Homo sapiens: one gene and its partners. The protein of the gene in region 1 interacts with the protein of each later gene in a biochemical or structural test. Each region holds a gene or a part of one and is shown in the gene's direction. Other genes may lie near its edges.

Region 1 (5,205 bases):
TGATGAGAAAAAAACATAAAGGAAAGGGACTTGGGTTTCATGGCAAGAGATTCAGCTTAGATGGGAATGAGCTGGTCTCTGAGGCAGAGTTTCCTGTCTCATCTTTGTATAAACTCCTTCTTAGAAACCAGCAGAGGCTCTTAATGTACGTCCATCTTCTCCTTCCCACCACAGACACCCACTCCTATGTGCGTTTCTGAAAATTACAGGGTCATTTGTGGATGTGCTTTAATTTAGTATAGATATAATCTGATATCATTATCTTTCTTTCCCCCCGCCCCCCGCCACCAGCATTCCCCCTGCACTCAATTTGTGCTTATATTCCTTTTGCTGTATATATACCCCTGGCTCATTGCTTCTGGAAGCTGCATTACTTATTCTAGAGTGTGGGTCTCCTACAATTTATTTATATAGCCCCCTAAATCAGTGGTTCTCAACTGGGGGTGATTTTATGCTCCCCAGGTGTGATTTGGCAGTGTCTGGAGACATTTTTGGTTTTCACAACTGGAGGTGGGCACTGCTGGTACCTAGGTGTATAGATGCCAAGGAGGCTGCTAAATATCCTACCATGCCCAGGACAGCCCCCATTACACAGAATAGCCAGTCCCAGAGAAACTCAGCCTTAGATTAGTGTTTCTCCTTCCTGGCTGCACATTAAAATTATCAGGGGAGCTTTTAAAATACACTGATGCTGGGATCCACCCCTGACCAATTAAATCAGACCCTCTGGGATGGGGCCTGGGCTTTAGAGTGTGTTTTTAACACTCCCCAGGTGATTCTAATGTGCAGCCAGGTTTGAGAATCTTTACTCTAAGGACTCAATCTTTGAAAGTTACAGCATTGTAGAGGGGAAGGATGATCCAGAATTAATTAAAGAAGGAAGAAGAGTGAACAGTACTGAACTGGATGCAAGATTATGACTGTGCAAATCCTCCTATTTCAGATTTAGGTTCTTTACTGGTAAATTGGATAAAAAGTTGGCAGTTCTTTTACTCACTGGAGCATGATGAAGATAAATGAGTTACAGTTGCCCTAGACTTTTACGATTAGTAAAACCAATGGATGGACAGAATAAATAAGTATAAGCAGACACCTATAGTCTAATATCGCAACTCCAGAAAATCTTTGAGAAAATCTCACACATGATGGGAGTGGGACAGGGAGTTGTTTTGTTTTTGCTTCCCTTGAGTCTCAGCAAAAGAACAGTCATAGAAAATATTTCCAAAAAATTTAGATATAATTTTGCTTGGCAATTAGAATATACCCTCTGTCAGCTTTGTTCAGTTGTTGGACCTATTAACCAATCCATACCAGACTAATTTATTTCTAAACAAAGTGGCGAATGGTGTCCAATGCCTTTTCTGAGAAAGAGAAAAATGGCCTCTTCAAAAGACGCAATTTGGTATAGACTTGTCTGGCCGTTTTGTAGTGTTCTGGAGTGGGGAGCATATACTACCCTCACAGGTAAACGAAACCTTACCTGTATGTATTGTCTCACCCATATCCTGCTACAGGAGAAAAAAAAAAAAAAAAAAAAAAGAACATTTCCATGGATCAGTTAGATTCCTTTAGACTTACAGGGAGGCTAAAATCACAGCATTAGGAAAGACTTTAGCATTTGGCACCTTGAATGAATATGGAAAATATAAGACCCAGGGTCTGTTGGTAGCCAGAAGAATGGATGCATTTCAACAGCAGTAATTTGCATGCGTGTATCACTTTGTCACTTTGAAAGCATTGTGACTCACATTTCACACTGGATGTTCACAAAGACTCTGATTTAAGCAGGGGTTGTTTTACAAACGAGAAAATTGGGATTCAAAGACACAGGTGGGTCTTGGACGGCAATCTGCTGATTTTTTTTTTCTAGGACTGTCTTTGAAATATCATCTGGTCTCCTTGTTAAGATTTAAACTGCTGTGTATCATCAGAACAATAGCCAATTAACTAATTGTGGAAACATTTACAATCATGCTTCCATGTTTTCAAATTTCCTGTCACCTAGTTATAAAAGTATGTATCTCTATACATATTATTTGTGGTTGTTTAAGAAGGCAGGAATTTGACTAGGAATTTTGGTTCGGTTTAAATAACCTCCTAGATTATTTATTATTTGAGCAAAGTTTAAATATATATACAAATAATTTGAAATAATATTTATGATAATGTTTCGATAATATATGCTTCATACACCTAGCTTGCTTGTTACAGATGAACACCTGACAATAATGTTTAGTTTTCATATCCCAAATAGGAGACTATCTTCCTTTTTCCTAAAGGTTTTTATGCCTATTCCAAACTTGCTTTAAAAGACTTTTTTTTTTCCAGATATGGAAAACGATCCAGCCCAGAGACACTGATTTCAGACCTCTTGATGAGAGAAAGCACAGAAAATGTTCCCAGAACTCGGTATGACAAGGCTTGTGATGGGGACATTGTTGCAGAGCTCAAGGTGCCCAGGGGAGGGAAGTCAGAGACAGGTGCCTGGTGGGAGGCACCACCAGGCTTCTAGACTAGGGGAGATTTCGGCAGAAATGAGGATGAAGAAGCAGGCAGAGGAGACCTCTCTTTTCATGTACTCATTGTCAAATCTCTAAACTTCTGTGGAATAACATTTTTTTAGCTCAGGTTATTTGGTGCTCCTTTGACGATTTTAAAAATAATTGACTTTTAACTTAGAAATTATATAGAATTTCTAACATTGTTGGAGTCAGGGGAGCATAGAGTGAGTCCCTGACTCTAAATTGAAATGACCAACTGTCCATCTCTGGCTGGGAAGATCTGTAGATTTTATATATGTGGAGTGTCCAGATGTCCTAGGAAATGTCCCATGTGGTTTTTACTCCAACTTTCCCAGTTTTACATGAAGCTGTAGGTAAATTAGGTGCTCTGGATTACTTTTTGACATATTTTAATTCAACTTGTGTCATATAGTGATTTATTACATTCAACGAATGCACGTTGAATGACAGTATTCTTAGGAGTTTATCTGTAGTCTCAGGACTTTCTTGCAGTTTGGGTCTGTCTTGGAAAGAGGTGCCCACCAATGTCTAAGTGTTAAACATTGAGCTAAGGTTTTCTGGTGCCTCCTGGACAAGGAGTGCTGCTGAAGAGGAGCCTGGTCCTCTTCCATCTTCATAACCTCCTGACTCTTCAGTCCTTGCTTCCTGTCTCTAACCACAGTAAGATCATAGTTCACAGGGTCCACCCACGTCTGTGGCAGCTTGGCTGCCTTAAACCAAGTTCTACAATGTCAAGAACCAAGTTCCCCAGAAGAGGTCACTACAACACTTGCTCAGTGAGTGTGACTGACGTGGCTCTCCATCAAGTTCTCCCTAGAGACTCAGCAGGGTGACCCGCTGGGCCACCCACCTTCCCTTCTAACCTCCCTCAGTTCTCTTCTAAAATGGCCAGCCAGCATGAAGGGTGTTAGTATAGAGTTGTGAGATTTGTTTTCTCTAAAGGGAACAACGATTTGAACTGAGATAAAACTCCAGTGCTCCTGTCCCTGGAGGAACCAGCCCAGACTTAAATAGCAAATGCAAGGGAAACAGGCAGAAAATTTGTAAGGGTTATCTTTTTTTAATTAAATAATAATAATAATAATTATTATTATTATTCAGAGACAAGGTCTCCTTCTGTCACTCAGGCCAGAGCACAGTGGTGCAATCAAAGATCACTGCAGCCTCGAGCTCCCAGCCTCAAGAGATCCTCCCTCCTCAGCCTGCCCAAGTGCTAGGATTACAGTTGTGAGCCATAATGCCTGGCCAGGGTTGTCTTTAACACTAAGCAGTAAATGTCTTTCCATGTTTCACTGACATGCATATGATGTTTGCCACAGTAAAAAGTTTAGGGTAGACTATATCGACTTACTGTTAGAAAAATAACAACGCAGACCTACTTAGAACCTTGGTTTTTGTCTTTGTTTTGTGGCCCAAGGTCACACAGTTAGTGCATGAAGTAAAATTAATTGCAACCTGATTGACAGACTCCATCAGGTGCAGTTAGAAGGAGACAAAACTTGACGGTCTTGAAGTTGCCTATGAGTGCTATTTTATTATAAAGGTCTTATTATAGTCTAATAAGTAGCATCTTACTACATAATAAAGCTGGCAGGAAAAGGAAGCATATTTAGAGTTGAGGAACAATAACTTTCCTGTCACAGCTTCATGTGATTTCTGTAATTTTGATTTTCAAAAGATCGGGGTGTTCTTCGGCTCCTTTGATACATACAGAGCCTTTCAAATGCTCTCTCTGATGTTTGCCCAAGACGCCTGTCAACATCGTGGAATGCTGCTCAGCTGGGGCTGTGCATATTGTGCCTCCGCCTCACGATCTGATATTCCACATGGCTTCTTATTTAGAATGCCAACAGGAAACTTTTCAACAGTTCCCGGTCATCTTTCACTTCAGATCTAAATGTCTCACCCTTGCTCATACCTCAGGAAGTTGGGCAGCTTTCCTTACATGCTTTGCTTCTTATGTTTTACAGGCTTGAAGACCCTGCAATGTGGTGATGGGAAATGAGACTTGCTCTCTGGCCTTTTCCTATTTTCAGCCCATATTTCATCGTGTAAAACGAGAATCCACCCATCCTACCAATGCATGCAGCCACTGTGCTGAATTCTGCAATGTTTTCCTTTGTCATCATTGTATATATGTGTGTTTAAATAAAGTATCATGCATTCAAAAGTGTATCCTCCTCAATGAAAAATCTATTACAATAGTGAGGATTATTTTCGTTAAACTTATTATTAACAATTAGTCATTATAGTCTCCCTCAACTAGCAGATTCAGGGTTCGTTTCGCTAATATTAAAACAGCGGCTATGAAAGATATGAAGATATGATTATTCATGATAACCAAGATCAGCTGTGTGGTGTGTGTGTATGTGTGTAAAACATATAGATGCATTTGAAGATATTGATCAAAGGAATGCTAATTTGGGAAATTTTTCTGAGCTTTCCCCCCATTAACATTGGAACCCTTTTGCTAACCTTGTTAACCAGTGCTGTCAGCAGAAGAACTTCCTGACTAACTAGAGCTTTCTGTGGAATGTCCTTTATCCCTCTGTCTAATATGGCAGCCACTAGCCACATGTGGTTTTTGAGCCCCTGAATGTAGTAAGTGCAAATAAAGAGATGAGTTTTAAATTTTATTTAATTTTAATGAATTTTAACTTAAATGGCCATTAAGTCTCTAGTG
Region 2 (7,294 bases), on another chromosome or scaffold:
AGAAATTTGTACCTCAACAAACCATCCAGAGGATTTTGAAGGAATCTATAGCTTGGGAACTGTTTCCCTCAGGGTTAATTCTTCTTAGTAAACTGTTAGAGATGGAACCCTGTGAAACCAGGGGTCTGCATGCTACAGCATAATGGTGGAGGCCTCACTCCTGGGCTGTCAAAGGCCAGACATAGGTGTAAAGAACTGCCTCTCAGGTGGAATTTAGGAGCATTGTTCAGGATCTGCATGACCTTGAGAAGGTTCCTTAATTTTTCTTCATCTCAGTTTCTTAATATATAAAATGGAGATAATAATAGTTGCTTCTTCGTAGGATTGTTGTGAGGATTGAATGGATAATTACCCTTAGATACTTGGAATACTGCCTGGCCCACAGTAAGTACTATGTACATGTTGGTTGCTGCTACTGCTTCTGTTATAATTATTATCACCGTCTCAATTTCCACCACCTTGAGGGTTATTCTCTAAAACCCAGGGGTCAGCAAACTATGACCCTTTGCTTTGTTTTTGTGAATAAAGTTTTATTGGAACACAGCCATGTTCACACCTTTACATTATTGTCTACAGCTACTTTATGCTACATACAACAGGAGAGTTACATAGCTACAACAGGGCTCATATGGCCCACAATGCTTGACATATATCTCTTTGCCCTTTACAGACAGTTTGCCGACTCTTGCTCTATACACCTTTGGGCCCCTGTTAATATGTTGATTGCCCTGGGAGGAACAAGGACTGTTGTGTTTCAGGTTAGCTGACAGCTGGTTGAAGGCAGAACTCTGTGAGTGAAGCAGAAGGAATCAGCATCTTGCAATAGAGTAGAAAGAGGGCAGAGAACATCCTTGAGAAGGGTTTGGGGTGAGAGGACTTTGCAAGTCTCTTAGCCCAACTCCTTGCCTGAGCTTTTATGAAGCTGGAGAGTGTGTGGAAATAGCTGGGGGCGGGTTTTTCCATTTTCTACCTGTCAATGGCTTTCTTCCTCTAAGCTTCAGACCACTTTCTCAACTGGTCAGTTTATGAAATGCCCTTCCTGAGATCAAAGCAAGTCACCCCATCCGATACCTTCAGAGAAATTTCTATTTACTTTTTTCAGTTAAAATGAGAACTAATTACCTACTATGTTTCCAAACACTGGGGCAAATACAGGAAATAAAGCATGGACCTTGACCACAGAGTGCATAATCTTCTTTAAACTGAAAAGCCATAAACCCTTCAAATGAAGGACTTAAGGCCCCAGCCTTACTCATTTGATACCCTGACACAATGAAGAAGTGACTAGGATTGCAAATAGCTGGTAACTAATTAACATCTGCCATTAAGATTGTGACAATAAAATAATTGGGGGCAAGTTGTGTCTGCTGAAGACCTATGTTCTCATCACTGGAGATTCTACTGAGCAAGGAGTGGGCTGAGCTGTGTTTTTAGTGCCCATGTTTTGCTAGGAGGCAGTTGCTAACTAGCAGGTAGAAGGAGCAGTTTATTGAGTGCTTCCTATGTTTCTAGTAGCTGTGGTTTACATATGTTATCTCATTGAATCTTTACATTGGCCCCATGAAGTAGGCACCACTATCCATTCTACACATAAAAAGCAGGTACTAAAATTACTGTAGCTAGTCAATGGTAGAGGTGGAGTTCCTGCTTATCTGATTCCAAAGCCATTGTTGTAGTATATCATTCAGATAAGTTTAAGAAGGCAGGGAAAGATAAAAACACATCTGGCTGGAAGCAAGAGAAGGTGGAGAGAATTAAACAGCCTCACTATTCCCTGTTTGAAATCCTGATACCTGAGATTTAGTAGAGAGGTGTACCAAAGCAACAGCACTGCCTTTTTCTTTAGAAAATAAAATAACAAACTCCTACTTCCTGGTTTCCAAGATTAACAAATATTCAGTTTTACCAAATATTCAGTTTTACCATAATTGCTTCAGAATTTGAGAAAAATTAAACAACACATTTAAGAAATAAAAGTCTCATATGTTTTCCACACTGATACTTAAAGCCAATTATTCTTACGATGTTGGCCAGTTTTAAAATTTGATTATTGCCCAATTTTTAAATGGTCTAGATTGTAGTTGCTCACTTAAGTCATTGCGGCTGTTGGGCAAATTTGGCTTTTTGTTTTGTTTTGTTTCGTTTAAAAAATAATATTAGTGGTTTGTAATGGTTAGAGACGGTGGAAGATGGCCTTTTATCACCTCACCATCAGTGGCTTAGGTAAAACAAAAATCAGCCATAGAACGCTTCTGCCCATCAGAAGCAGGCCCCCAGTTGACATGCCTCCTATTTTACAGCTCAAGAAGCTCTACTGTTCACCTTCTAAAAGTCTTTTGTGACAGGAAATGCTTTTTTGACAGCAGGACTAGCCCACCTGCCCAGTAGTAAGTCTGAGGTAGAGAGATGCAGGCTCTAGACCTTGAAGATTGCTCTAATGCCAAAGATTCTTATATCTGGTGCAGGCAAGAATAGGTGGGTGTGTGCATATATTTAGTATTGTGCTGGCGCAGATGGAGCCCACTGTGTACATCTCTTCCCAACACTGCATTCAGTGACATGGTGTTGGTAGCTTGAAATTGACCATGGCAATCAACAAACACTACAAATAAAGGCTTGGTTTTGTTTGTTTGCTTGTTTGTTTTTACTTTTTTTAAAAGAGCCGATTATTAAACATTTACCTGTGCATGGCTGAATATATTCCATAATTTATCTTTTCTTTTAGTATAAACACATTTTCCCCATTCTTTACCATAACAAAAAAACTTCAATGAATATGCTATGTGGAATTTTGTGCACATATGTGTGAGTTCCTTTAGCATATAGACCTAGAAGTGAAGTTTCTATCTTATGAACTGTGCACATTTCAACTTCATTAGATAGCATCAAATTGATGTCCTACTAGATTTCCTATTTTCTTACCTTCTTGTTGACACTTGATATTGTCAGTCTTCTTAATTTATGCCAATCTTAGCTTGAGGTGGTATTTTACTGCTATTTGAACCTATAATTTTTCTGATTACTTACGAGGCTAAAAATCTTTTTACATATTTATTGGCCATCTGGGTCTTTTGTGAATTTGCTACTCATATTTTTTGTTCATTTTTTCCTTAGATAATCTCCTGTTCTTTTTATTGATTTGTAGAAATTCTTTACATATCCTGAATACTTATTCTTATTCAATTATATGCAGTATACATATCATCTCTCACCTGTGGCTTGTCTTTTAATCATGTTATGTTTTTGTCATAAAGAAGTTTAAATTTTGATACAGTCAAATGTATTATTCTTTTCCTCTGTAATTTCTATGTTTTTTTCATGTTTAAGCAATCTTTCTTGACCTAAAGGTTAAAAATATGTTCCTATATTTTCTTTTTTGAAGTTTATATTTTCATATTTAAATTTTTAATCTATCTAGAATTTATTTTTGTCAATGGTATCAGGTGTACATTTAATGTATTTCCTCATATGGAAATGCAATTATTCCCACATTATTATGAAAGAGACCCAAGTTTCCCTCTTGCCTTTTTGGTTCCTCTTATACATAAAAGCCCTGCATATGCTTGCATCTATTTGGATATTACCTATTCCAGTCTATAGATTCATTTTATCTTTATTTTTGGAACTATTACACTCTAATTACTGTAACTTTACCAAAGCTCCTGATATTCTTTTGAGGCAATTCTTTTCTCTTTATTCAGCCTTTTCAGAATTTTCTTATCTATTCTTCAATGTTTACTCTTTCATGCGAATTGAACCATTTGTCAGCTTGGCAAGTTCCACTGAAAACCCTGTTAGATTTTTTACTAGAATGACAATGAATTTATAGATTAATATTAAAACAATCTATTAATATTTCATACATATGTACATATAGAGAGAGAGTCAGGTATTTTTATGTCCTTCAATAATTGCTTTATAACATTTCCATAAAATTTGAATTTATATTTTATTAGAATTAAATAATAATAATTTTATAAATTATTTTTATTTTTATTGTTAAGGGGATCGTCTATCCTGTTTTATGATATGAATGGCTATGGCTGCCCTATAGGAATGTTATTAGTTCTTATATGCTCATTTCCGTATTAATTTTTCAAACTTTTCCCCAGTCTTTGGAGCTTAAGCATTTAAGGTAAACTTAGTGTTTGTCCTCGAAAGAGTCAATGATGTTATCTTTGACAACCTTTATTGGCACTACGGTACATATGGAAGGGTCAAAGTTTCTAATACGACCGTCAGGGTAAAGTCTAAACGGTATTTATGACAAGGTGTGTGCTAAAATCAGCTCACTTGCAGCAATGGCTTGGATTAGATCCACTTGCATTCTCTTTTTTACCTTGCTTTTTGCCCACATAGCAGCTGTACCGGTAAGTCGAGTCCTGCTTTTTGGATATTTAGAAATATTAATTCTAGTATACATTATCCATTTTCTGTATATTTATTTTTTTCAGATTAAGTATCTTCCTGAAGAAAATGGTAAGAATTAGTTCAAATGCACAGAGAGTGTTTTTGAACTTTTTTCCTTCGGCAAGACTAATAATAATTTTTTTTCTCACTTTTAACAGTACATGATGCAGATTTTGGTGAACAGAAGGATATTTCAGAAATCAATTTAGGTGAGTTCAATTTTTGTGTTATTAAAGTCTTGAAATTACTTGAAACCCAGTGGTGGGATTACTGAACACTTTCCTTCCTAATACTGTATTGTGATTCTCTGGGGGAGAAATATTTTTTGGTGCTTTGTGAGAAATTGCATTTTCTGAAAGATAAAAATGCGGAAAGAGAAGATAGTTAGACCAGACTTTCTAGGAGAGCTAGGAAGTCCTCAATGGATCTAGAAATATGTAACAAGTTTCTCTTTATAAAAATTTTATTTTTCCAATTTGTATTTGGAGGAAAAGGAAAGCAAATAGATAATTATTCCGATTGTTAAAGAAAAATATAAGAATAAGCCTCTGGTTATATTTAGTGGGGAAACAAAACCCAACCCCTCCACTGGCCCATCATATTCACTAACAACTCCTCGGTTGAGACTTAGGGGTGAGTGTAAAGCAATCTCCACTTAGACATCTCATTTACAAATATATTTCTTGAAGAAATTCATCAGTCTCATCCATTACTGAGAGGAGAGAGAAGCTGAGTCATCATCTCTGTTTTCTCTCTGTTGTCCTGCTTCTGAAATGAGAGAGAAGCCTCTGCATTCCCAGTGTCTTAGGTCAGGATTTGTGGAAGCAGAGCTATTCATGATAATAAGTACCTTCAGTTTACAAAAGCTTTTATATGCAATTGCATATTTATTTGTCCAGTCTTGTCGTGGAGTAAGTGCTGTTTTCATTTTTTTGGGAAGCGACAGGTGGCTTCTCATGGGTAGAGTGACTTGCTCAAGATCATAGGTAGCAGTGATGGGGCTTACTTCCAGATCTTGTAGCCCATACCTTAATAGCTCAGTGCTATCTGAAGGCTACAAAACTAACATACCAATAACTAAGGGTCAATTTTTCTGGCTTTGTCTCACTCACAGAGAAGCCAGTTAGTTGATATTTAATTGGAATAGCTGGAGAATGGCTGCATAGGCAGAGCAGAAATAGTTTAGGAAGGTAAATGGGTGAATGCATAAATGGGTCCCAAGACTTCAGAGCCAGGCACTAAAATATCTCTCTTTAGAGTTAGCCATTGTGTAAACAGTTCAGAGAATCTGCTGTATTTTACAACAGAAATGGGATTAGAATTAGAGTTTTTCTAATCTCATCATTATTTATCTAATAAAAATTAATTATTTACCTCTTTGCCATTTTGTACTCTTTAGGCCCACCACCACCTCTGATCCTTGACCCCAGTGGAGAAATCTCATTACCATGTAAATCTTCTTTTTAGGCCATTTCAACCAAACCACCAGGATTGATTGGGTTAGCCATATGGCCAGATTCTAACACCATAAATTGGGAAAATCATATAGAGAAAATTGCCACCTTTTTACCATCTTCTTTTTGCCTCACAAGGCTGAGTAAACGTTTCTTATCCTCCATCCCAAGACCTGCTCCTCTCAGTCCTTTTCATTTCAGTAAATGTGACTCACTCCTTCTAGATTTTCGGCTCAGAATGTTAGAGTTGCCCCTAACTCTTGCTTTTCTCTCACACCTGACACACAATCTGTCAGCAAATGTTATTCGATCTACTCGATCTACTTTTCTTTTTTCTCTTTTCTTTTCTTTTCTCCTGAGATGGAGTGTTGCTATGTCACCCAGGCTCGAGTGCAGTGGTGCCATCTCGGCTCACTGCAACCTCCGCCTCCTGGGTTCAAGCGAGTCTCCTGCCTCAGCCTCCCGAGTAGCTGGGATTATAGGTGCCCACCACCATGCCAGGCTAGTTTTTCTATTTTTAGTAGAGATGGGGTTTCTCTATGTTGGCTAGGCTGGTCTTGAACTCAAGACCTTGTGATCCGCCCACCTTAGCCTCCCAAAGTGCTGAGATTACAGGCATGAGCCACCACGCCTGGCCTAGATCTACTTTCAAATCATACTACAGTTGAGACTTTTCAGCACTTTTACTGCCCCTACCTTGGTCAGCCACCTCATGTCTGGGCTGGTCCTTTGACAGGCCTCATAACTGTGCTTCCCTTTCTGCCTTTGCTCCCTAAAGACTATTCTGCACAACATAGAGCTCTCCTTTTAATATCCTTCAGATCATGTCATTTCTCTGCTCCAACCATCTAATGACTTCTCCTTCAACATAAAGTAAAGGCCCTAGAGCCTTGATTCCCAAAGTGTGGTCCACAGGCCAAAGTGATCTGTGTCACTCAAGAGCTTTCTCTTAGAAATGCAGCATTTGAGGATCCACCCCAGACCTACAGAATTAGCATCTTCATTTTGACAGACCCAAGTGGTTTCTATGCACATCAGAGTGTGAGTCAATCTGCCCCTGACTACTCTTCCCCTTCCTACTTGAGCTTTCCAGCCACCCTGACTGCACAGCTACTCCTCTAAGGAAGTGATTTTCGATGTGTTGTCCCCAAGCCAGCAGCATCGGCATCACCAGGAAACTTGTTAGGAATGAACATTCTCAGGCCTCACCCCAGACTTAATGGACCAGAAATCCAACGGTGGGGGCTCATCAACGGGTGTTGACCAAGCCTTCCAAGGGACTCTGATGCTCAAGTTTAGGACCACTGCCCTAAGACATCAAGGCTTTCCTGTCACAGGACCTTTCTATCTGGTGTTGCCTCTACCTCCCCTACTCTTCCTTCATTCCCTCACTCTATCATATTTCTGCTAAAATGCCACCTCCTGTGGGA
Region 3 (6,962 bases), on another chromosome or scaffold:
TTGGGGAGCGGGAGTCAGGGGCAAGACGACCAAGTAGAGATGTTTGTCACAGATGATGAGAGCTGTTGTGGTGGCATTCATACTTATTCTTTTTGCCAGCTATTTTTATTTTGTCTCTTCAAAAGAATATATGAAGGGAATAGTAATAATAATTATTAAAAACAGTAATAGTAACAGTGGCAAAGCTCCTTTCATTATATCATATAGTAAAAACATAATGTTATGGTTTTGTAATATAACATTACACTTTTTTTTGAATGTCTAAAGGGTATCTGAAAGTATAAGGCATGCAGAAAAAGATTTGGCTATTTACTAAATTTTAAGATCCTACTTGTCTAGAGCCTTATTGTGACAGAGTTTTTAAAAATGCCCCGAAATATGCAGCCCATGTAACAAAATGAGAACTTTACTGAAAGGCATTCACATTTCAAATCAAGATCAAGAGAAAATCCACAAATAGTATTGTGTGTTTTCTGCACAAAGGAGATCATTGAATTGTCTGTGCACTTGTATACTCACATTTTTAACTAAATTAATCATCACTTTTTTTCTGCTAGTTAATGCTCTCCAAAAGTCAGATGAATAAAATGATTGTACTGACTATTTGATTGTGCTGATTAAGTCAAAACTCTTTACCAACTATATTTCATTGGCTTTAAAATGTGGGCTTAAAAAGCATTTTAATATTTTAATATTCATTTGCTATTGATGGTATGCCATTGCTTTACTGAAAGCATTTTTTTCTTGGTGGTCCATAAAATAAAATTGTGCTTTACATTCTTGGGCGTCAAAGATCCAAAGAAATGCAGCAGGTAAGTCACAGAAAGAAGGAAAATCCTGACACAAAATCAATTCATAGAATATGAACTGATTCACTGACGTGCTTCATCATAGTTCTACCCCCATGGAATTACCCCCTTATCAATGTCATATACATTTCAGTTTTCTCGTGTAGTATTAATGCCTATTAAGTTTCTTCTGAGTGACAATTCATGGTAATTTACCTGTATCAAGGCCTGATAGCATTTCAGAAACTTTAACTCTTGTAGCAGAAATTCCTCAGAAGACTAGTAATTAGTGTGTTTCAATTCCAGTAGCAAGCATACTGTCACACTTTTATTTAAGCAGTTACTGAATCATGGAATTTAAAGGCTGAGCCAGGCCATAAGTTTGTTCCATTGTTTAGAATACAAAACTTAGATTTACAGAAATTTAATGAGTAGATCCTATCCCTCAGTTTATATCACAGAGCAAGACTGTTGTTCAAGAGAGCATGAGATTAGGTCATTAACATAATTCCCCTTGGTTTATAGGTCAGGCTGTTATGAAACTACAGAAAGAAATACACAGAAATAAAGAAAAAATTCTCCCTAGCAAAGATGAAGTTTTATCTAGTTTGAATCCCAGATAGGAAAGTAGGCAGCTGATTATTCACTGAAGAGTAGAAAAATATATGATCTTAAAATTGGAATGAGGAAACTCTTTAATAAGTATTTTCTAAGAAATTCAAACTACTTTGCATATTTTAAATCTTCTATAAGATTACATTATTGGAGAATTTTATGTTGTGTTTGGCCATTGGACCATGTCTAATTTCTCTATTTTTCACATTGGAAAGAATCCTAGTAAATGGTATTCCTAAAGAATTATATAATTTTGCTGTTGAGCATTTCTTTTTTTTTTTTTTTTTTTTTCCAAAACAGAGTCTTGCTCTGTTGCCCAGGCTGGAGTGCAGTCGTGCGATCTCGGCTCACTGCAACCTCTGCCTCTTGGGTTCAAGCAGTTCTCCTGCCTCAGCCTCCTGAGTAGCTGGGATTACAGATGCGCACCACCACACCTGGCTAATTTTTGTATTTTTAGTAGAGACGGGGTTTCACTATGTTGGCCAGCCTGGTCTCGAACTCCTGACCTCATGATCCACCTGCCTAGGCCTCCAAAAGTGCTGGGATTACAGGCGTGAGCCACCGCCCCCAGCCACTGTTGAGTATTTCAGAACTTCTCTTTGTATCATAAAGTTGTCATAGAAAAGAGTCCTTGAGACCAATGATCTTTCAAAGATTGGTATCTGACATTAATAACTCAAGAATGCAGTTTCACAAATTTTCCTTAGGGAGAACACTTCATAAAAATTGAGTTAATAAAATGATAAAATACAATGGCCATAATAGTTCAGAACTCTGGCAGACATGCCTTTATTAGTATTCTTGGGAAATAGAGAAAGCATAGTACCTGAGTCCAAATTATATTCTCAAGTCCAAAATATTTGCTGACATAATAATAGTTTCTACATAAAAATATATTCTTAGTAGAGAATTAAATTACTTCATTTGTAATTCTTATAGCAGGCTAAAGATAGCCAATTTGATGATCAAAACCATGGGGAAAACTTCCTTCTAAGAACAGAATGTGACTTAAGGCAATAGAGTAGACAGAGGATGCATAGAAACCTGAATGAATATTAGTTATTCTTCCCTGAAAGAGTTGAAATTCCTAAATTGTGCCTTGGTAAAAATTATTGTGCCTTGGTTAAAAAAAAAAGTATGTGTGTGTATATGTGTGTGTGTGTATAAATGAATCTGTTGTCATTTTACTCTGCTTAACCATTAGAGATTTTTATATGTATGCTTATATCTGTTGTTATACACTAATAGTACAATCATTACATAATCATGACATTTTAATTCTTAATTACAATGCCTTTCCAACTATATAAAAATATGTCTAGTGACACATATTTTGGAAAGCTTTCTTGGAAAAACATCCAGAGATTGTGTTCATCACTATCTATATAAATGAGCTTATACTGAACCTTAAATATGTTTATTCAGCCTAACAATCAGAAAAAGAAAACGTTTTTTAACAGTATAAAGTTCAGATGAGTCCACTTGTCTTGGAATTTTATTTTGATTTTAATTAGAAGAAAGACTGCCATTAGAATTGTTTTCTAATGAAATCTTTATAAATTCTCTGGGCAGTGCCCTGTATCTTTATTAGAAAGACTTCTTATTTTTAACAATTTTATTTGGAAGAAGTTCTACTCATTTGCATCAGTTCATCGTCTACATAATTTGTGTGTGTGTGTGTGTATGTGTGTGTTTACAACTTTGACTTTTGAAACTAGAATAGAATCAGGTAAAACATCTAAGATCAGTGTGCCAGTAATTGGCCTGAATCATCGGGCACCATGATGGGTTTGGCCGCCTTCAACGTACTCGGTGTACATTCTATTTTTTTCTTCATAATGTTCAGTACTGTAGTACTAATCACCGAGAAAATTGCATTGACGCTTTTCGACCACCAGGGAAATATTCAGCTCATGGTTCTCCCCTAAAAAAACTAAAAAGCAGCTAAGCGCTGGGAACAAATCTGACTTAATGCATTTTCTCAGTGGGCCAAAGAAAGGAGGGCCGATTGACTGCTTTGACTTTTTAAAGGTCTTCTCTTTGTTCACTTATAAAGTGAGGAAAACAAATTCTCGGCACTGGCGTGAGAGTTATTTGAGCGTCACAAAAGAAAGCAAAAGAAAATATTAGTGCCATTATTGTGGCGAATTTCATGTTTCCCAGCGAGCCCTTTGATTCCTGGTTTGGGCTGGCGCTCGAGCTCTCCAGCCGGGTATGACTTCGGCCACAAGATGGCACTGACCTGCAAACAAAGAAAAGCACAGTGGCACCGACTTTTTCAAGCCTCGGGAAACTGCCCTGCCTTCCCCGGAGTCGAGGACTGTGGGGATTAGGGCTTCCTTTCCCCTGCGCGGGAGGTCTGTGTCGAATAATGTGTGGCTTCTGTTGGATTGCTTTTCTTTCCAAAATTCCTAGGCAATGCTTCCCCGAGGTGTGCACCTTTGTGAGGTGTTTGTGGGGTTGGGGGAGCTTCAGGCGCTACTCGCGGGACGCCGTCACGTGATCCGGGATGAGGTGGAGTTCGGCTTTAAGGAGGCGTCTCTTCCTAGCTTCATCAATCTTTAGGATCTGAGCAGGAGAAATACCAGCGGATCTTCCCCACTCTGCTCCCTTCCATTCCCACCCTTCCTTCTTTAATAAGCAGGAGCGAAAAAGACAAATTCCAAAGAGGGTAAGTTGCGAGTTTATGCCTTTCCAGAGACTTCTGCGAAATCTCTCATTGACAAGGTGAAGGATGAGAGGGGAAGAAAAACGATGCGAGTGTCCGAAACTGGCTCTGGGGGACCAAGGTGGGGTCTCCAGTGCAGGCAGGTCGCAGGTTGCTCCAAATCACCGGACCGTTCGCGGGCTCCTGCCGAAGGGTATGGGGACGACGCGGGTGAAAGGAGAGGGTACCCTACGCGGAGTTCGGGCTTTCCCACCACCTGCTCCCGGGGAATTTCTGGATGGGGATCCAAGTTTTCCTTTACCCCGGTTCTCTTTAAAAGGCCGAGGCACTGGGAAGGCGCCCGAGTTCGCCTATCCCACACCCGCTCATTTTCCTTACGTGTCTTGAGCTGGCTGGAGGCGCTGGCTCTGGCCGCACCGGAGTTTTCGCGGAGTAACTGGCTGGGATGAGCCGGAGAAGGGTGGGCTTGGCGCGTCGCCCAGCGTCGCACGGGTCCCGCGGCAGGTGTCGGGCTGGGAGCTGGCGGAGGTGGGAGTAGCCCTCGGCGCGGACCCCAGCGCGCAAGCCCACCCCCACTTGCGGGTTCCGCGCTTCTCGGCTGCAATCGAGCCGCGCTCCGCAGTACCGGGCGCTTCGAGTGTGGCGCTGCGCCCCGATAGACACCCGAAGCTTTTAATCATCGGAGTTCTAATCAGGGAACTCTTTAGCTCTTTCTTTTAGAAAAGTAATGATGGAACGTGGCTGGGTTAGGAGATTGGGAATGGACAGGAGGTGGAGGTGTCTTGATAGGGTGTGCCATTGGTTCCCAGGTAGACTGGAGAGATAAGAATGTTTTAAGGTCTGATGTTGGGCCAAAGAGAGAGAATTGACTTCGGTTTGGGATCTGCTTGGTTTTGGTTGTTTATATCTTTTCTCTTTTGCCAGTCTCTTATCACTGGTAGAAAGGTTTTTTGATGAGAGAGAGAGAGAGAGTGAGAGTGTGTGTATGTGTGTGTAGTAGGGAGTCAGGAATGGAGTAAATTTCGGGCGATTCACCTAGTTACGCAATATGAAAAAGGTGGGTGGGTAAGCGTGCCAACAGGAATTTTGACTGAACATGTCCCATTTCCCATTTCGTTGTTTGATAACTTCTGGAGCACAGGAAAAACCTAGGGGAGAGGAGCAAAAGAGAGTGTGTTTCCATGTACACACACTCACACTCACACACACACAGAGCACGCATTGCTTCCCCCACTCCCCATCCTATGAGAAAGCATGACGGGCGGGATGGCACACACAGGCAGGGGACATGTGGAGCTTGTCTGTCAGGTCTGGAACAGAAAAGCAGTAGCTGTTTGTTCTCGACCCTGGGCCGGCTCTCTGGCGAAGCAAGCGAGGGAGCAGAAAGCTAACCCGACCAGGTTCCCCACCCAGGACTAGACCGAGTGCTCTTCCGTGACTACTACTTTATTAGTCTTTATTGTCTTAAGGCAGCAGTCTGTTGAACAAGCCCTCCCCAGCAAGGAAGGAGCAGAGAATTATGTAATTCATTTAGATAAGCTAGCAGTAACTTTGGGAGGCTGTATGTAACAAGGCTGACATTTCTTTTCCAACACAAGTGAGGTGAACAGCCAGCCAATCCTGAGTATTTGAAAAAATGTATCTGCAGCAGGTTATGATCAGGGAGCTGTATTTTCAAGTAGTAACAGCACTGCGAAGAGCAAGCAATGAAAGGCCAGCATTCTAATTGGAAAGAAAGAAGAGGAAATTTCCCTCTGCAAGGGGGCTAATTTGCCAACTGGTGATGTATGTAATGTCTGTTTTGTCTCTATATGCACATGGCAGCTACACTGAGATTTAACAGTCTTTAATTTTTGCAGTTTCTGCAGTTGCATAGCTTATTTTACAAATTATATTAGAATAGTAAATATCAAATTATTTTCTTTTGCAAAGATAAAGTGTGTAAATTCTCTCTTAGTATTGTTATTTTCTGACAGTTATTCTTTCTTGAAATTACACTAAGGTAAACTGAAAATACACATTTATCCAATGCAGAATTGGTTTACACAACTGGAATAACTATCAAATGTGCACTTAGTAAAATAGGCTTGAAAACACCTTAAAAAAATAAACTTTTCATTTTCTCTATAGCTAAATTAACTTCTACCTAGTAAGAAAAATGCTTCCTCATTGGGCATGCCTATTAAATACAATTTCAAAGGTATCAGGCTAGAGCTTCAGTACGTTTACCTGAACTCATCTGTAAGAAAGCTATGTTTGTAGCCTGTACTTTGCAATAATTTAATGTCTGTGTGAATTCTTATATGTATTCATTTTTGCCAAAATCAGTCAGTGGATAGAATATTTCTGTTTCTTTTTCTCCATGGTATACATCTTGGTCTCTGTCCCTATTATTTCTCGCCAAAATTATTGCACTAGCTTTCTAATGAATCTCCCCATTTCTTCTCTTTCCTTGAGTGTGTTGAAAACAGCAGCGAGAATAGTAATTTTAAATCAAAAGTCATAAAACTTCACACCTTTGCCAAAGACTCTCCAGAGGCTCCCCAGCTCTCTCAGGATTATAGGCACAGACCATAAAAAAAAAAGGCTCTACAGTCTGTACCCCCCTCTTTAGCCTTCCTAATTAATTTCCTAAGAGTCCCTCCCTTATTTATCCTACTTCTTATTGCTACTTAGCACACCAGTTACACATGGGCCTTAGGGATTTTTGTTCTTTCCATATGGGATGCAATCCCTGAGATACTTGCATAGCTTCCCTACTCACCACTCCTCTCAGGTCTTAACTTACATGCCTTCTTCTCAGACAGTCAGAGGCCATCTTTTACAGTCAAGTAATAAATTGCAGCTCCCCCAAATCCCAGTTTCTCTTTCTTTTTTTTTTTTTGAGACGG

Evidence for each region. The genes of interacting proteins can lie anywhere in the genome.
Region 2: of the proteins of NPY (region 1) and MEP1A, one has a biochemical effect on the other in vitro, tested with the Homo sapiens proteins (one study listed by BioGRID).
Region 3: the proteins of NPY (region 1) and NPY1R form a complex in vitro, tested with the Homo sapiens proteins (one study listed by BioGRID).

Annotation. Positions count from the first base shown.
Region 1 is NC_000007.14:24,287,171-24,292,375, forward strand, and holds the end of NPY (pro-neuropeptide Y preproprotein), read left to right. Parts: intron 1-2,328; coding exon 2,329-2,409; intron 2,410-4,492; coding exon 4,493-4,517; 3' UTR 4,518-4,692; downstream 4,693-5,205. UniProt on the Homo sapiens protein: NPY is implicated in the control of feeding and in secretion of gonadotrophin-release hormone.
Region 2 is NC_000006.12:46,789,098-46,796,391, forward strand, and holds the start of MEP1A (meprin A subunit alpha precursor), read left to right. Parts: upstream 1-4,291; 5' UTR 4,292-4,301; coding exon 4,302-4,370; coding exon of another isoform or gene 4,371-4,454; coding exon 4,455-4,479; intron 4,480-4,568; coding exon 4,569-4,619; intron 4,620-7,294.
Region 3 is NC_000004.12:163,329,594-163,336,555, reverse strand, and holds the start of NPY1R (neuropeptide Y receptor type 1), read left to right. Parts: upstream 1-3,959; 5' UTR 3,960-4,074; exon of another isoform or gene 4,075-5,856; intron 5,857-6,962. UniProt on the Homo sapiens protein: Receptor for neuropeptide Y and peptide YY. The rank order of affinity of this receptor for pancreatic polypeptides is NPY > [Pro-34] PYY, PYY and [Leu-31, Pro-34] NPY > NPY (2-36) > [Ile-31, Gln-34] PP and PYY (3-36) > PP > NPY free acid.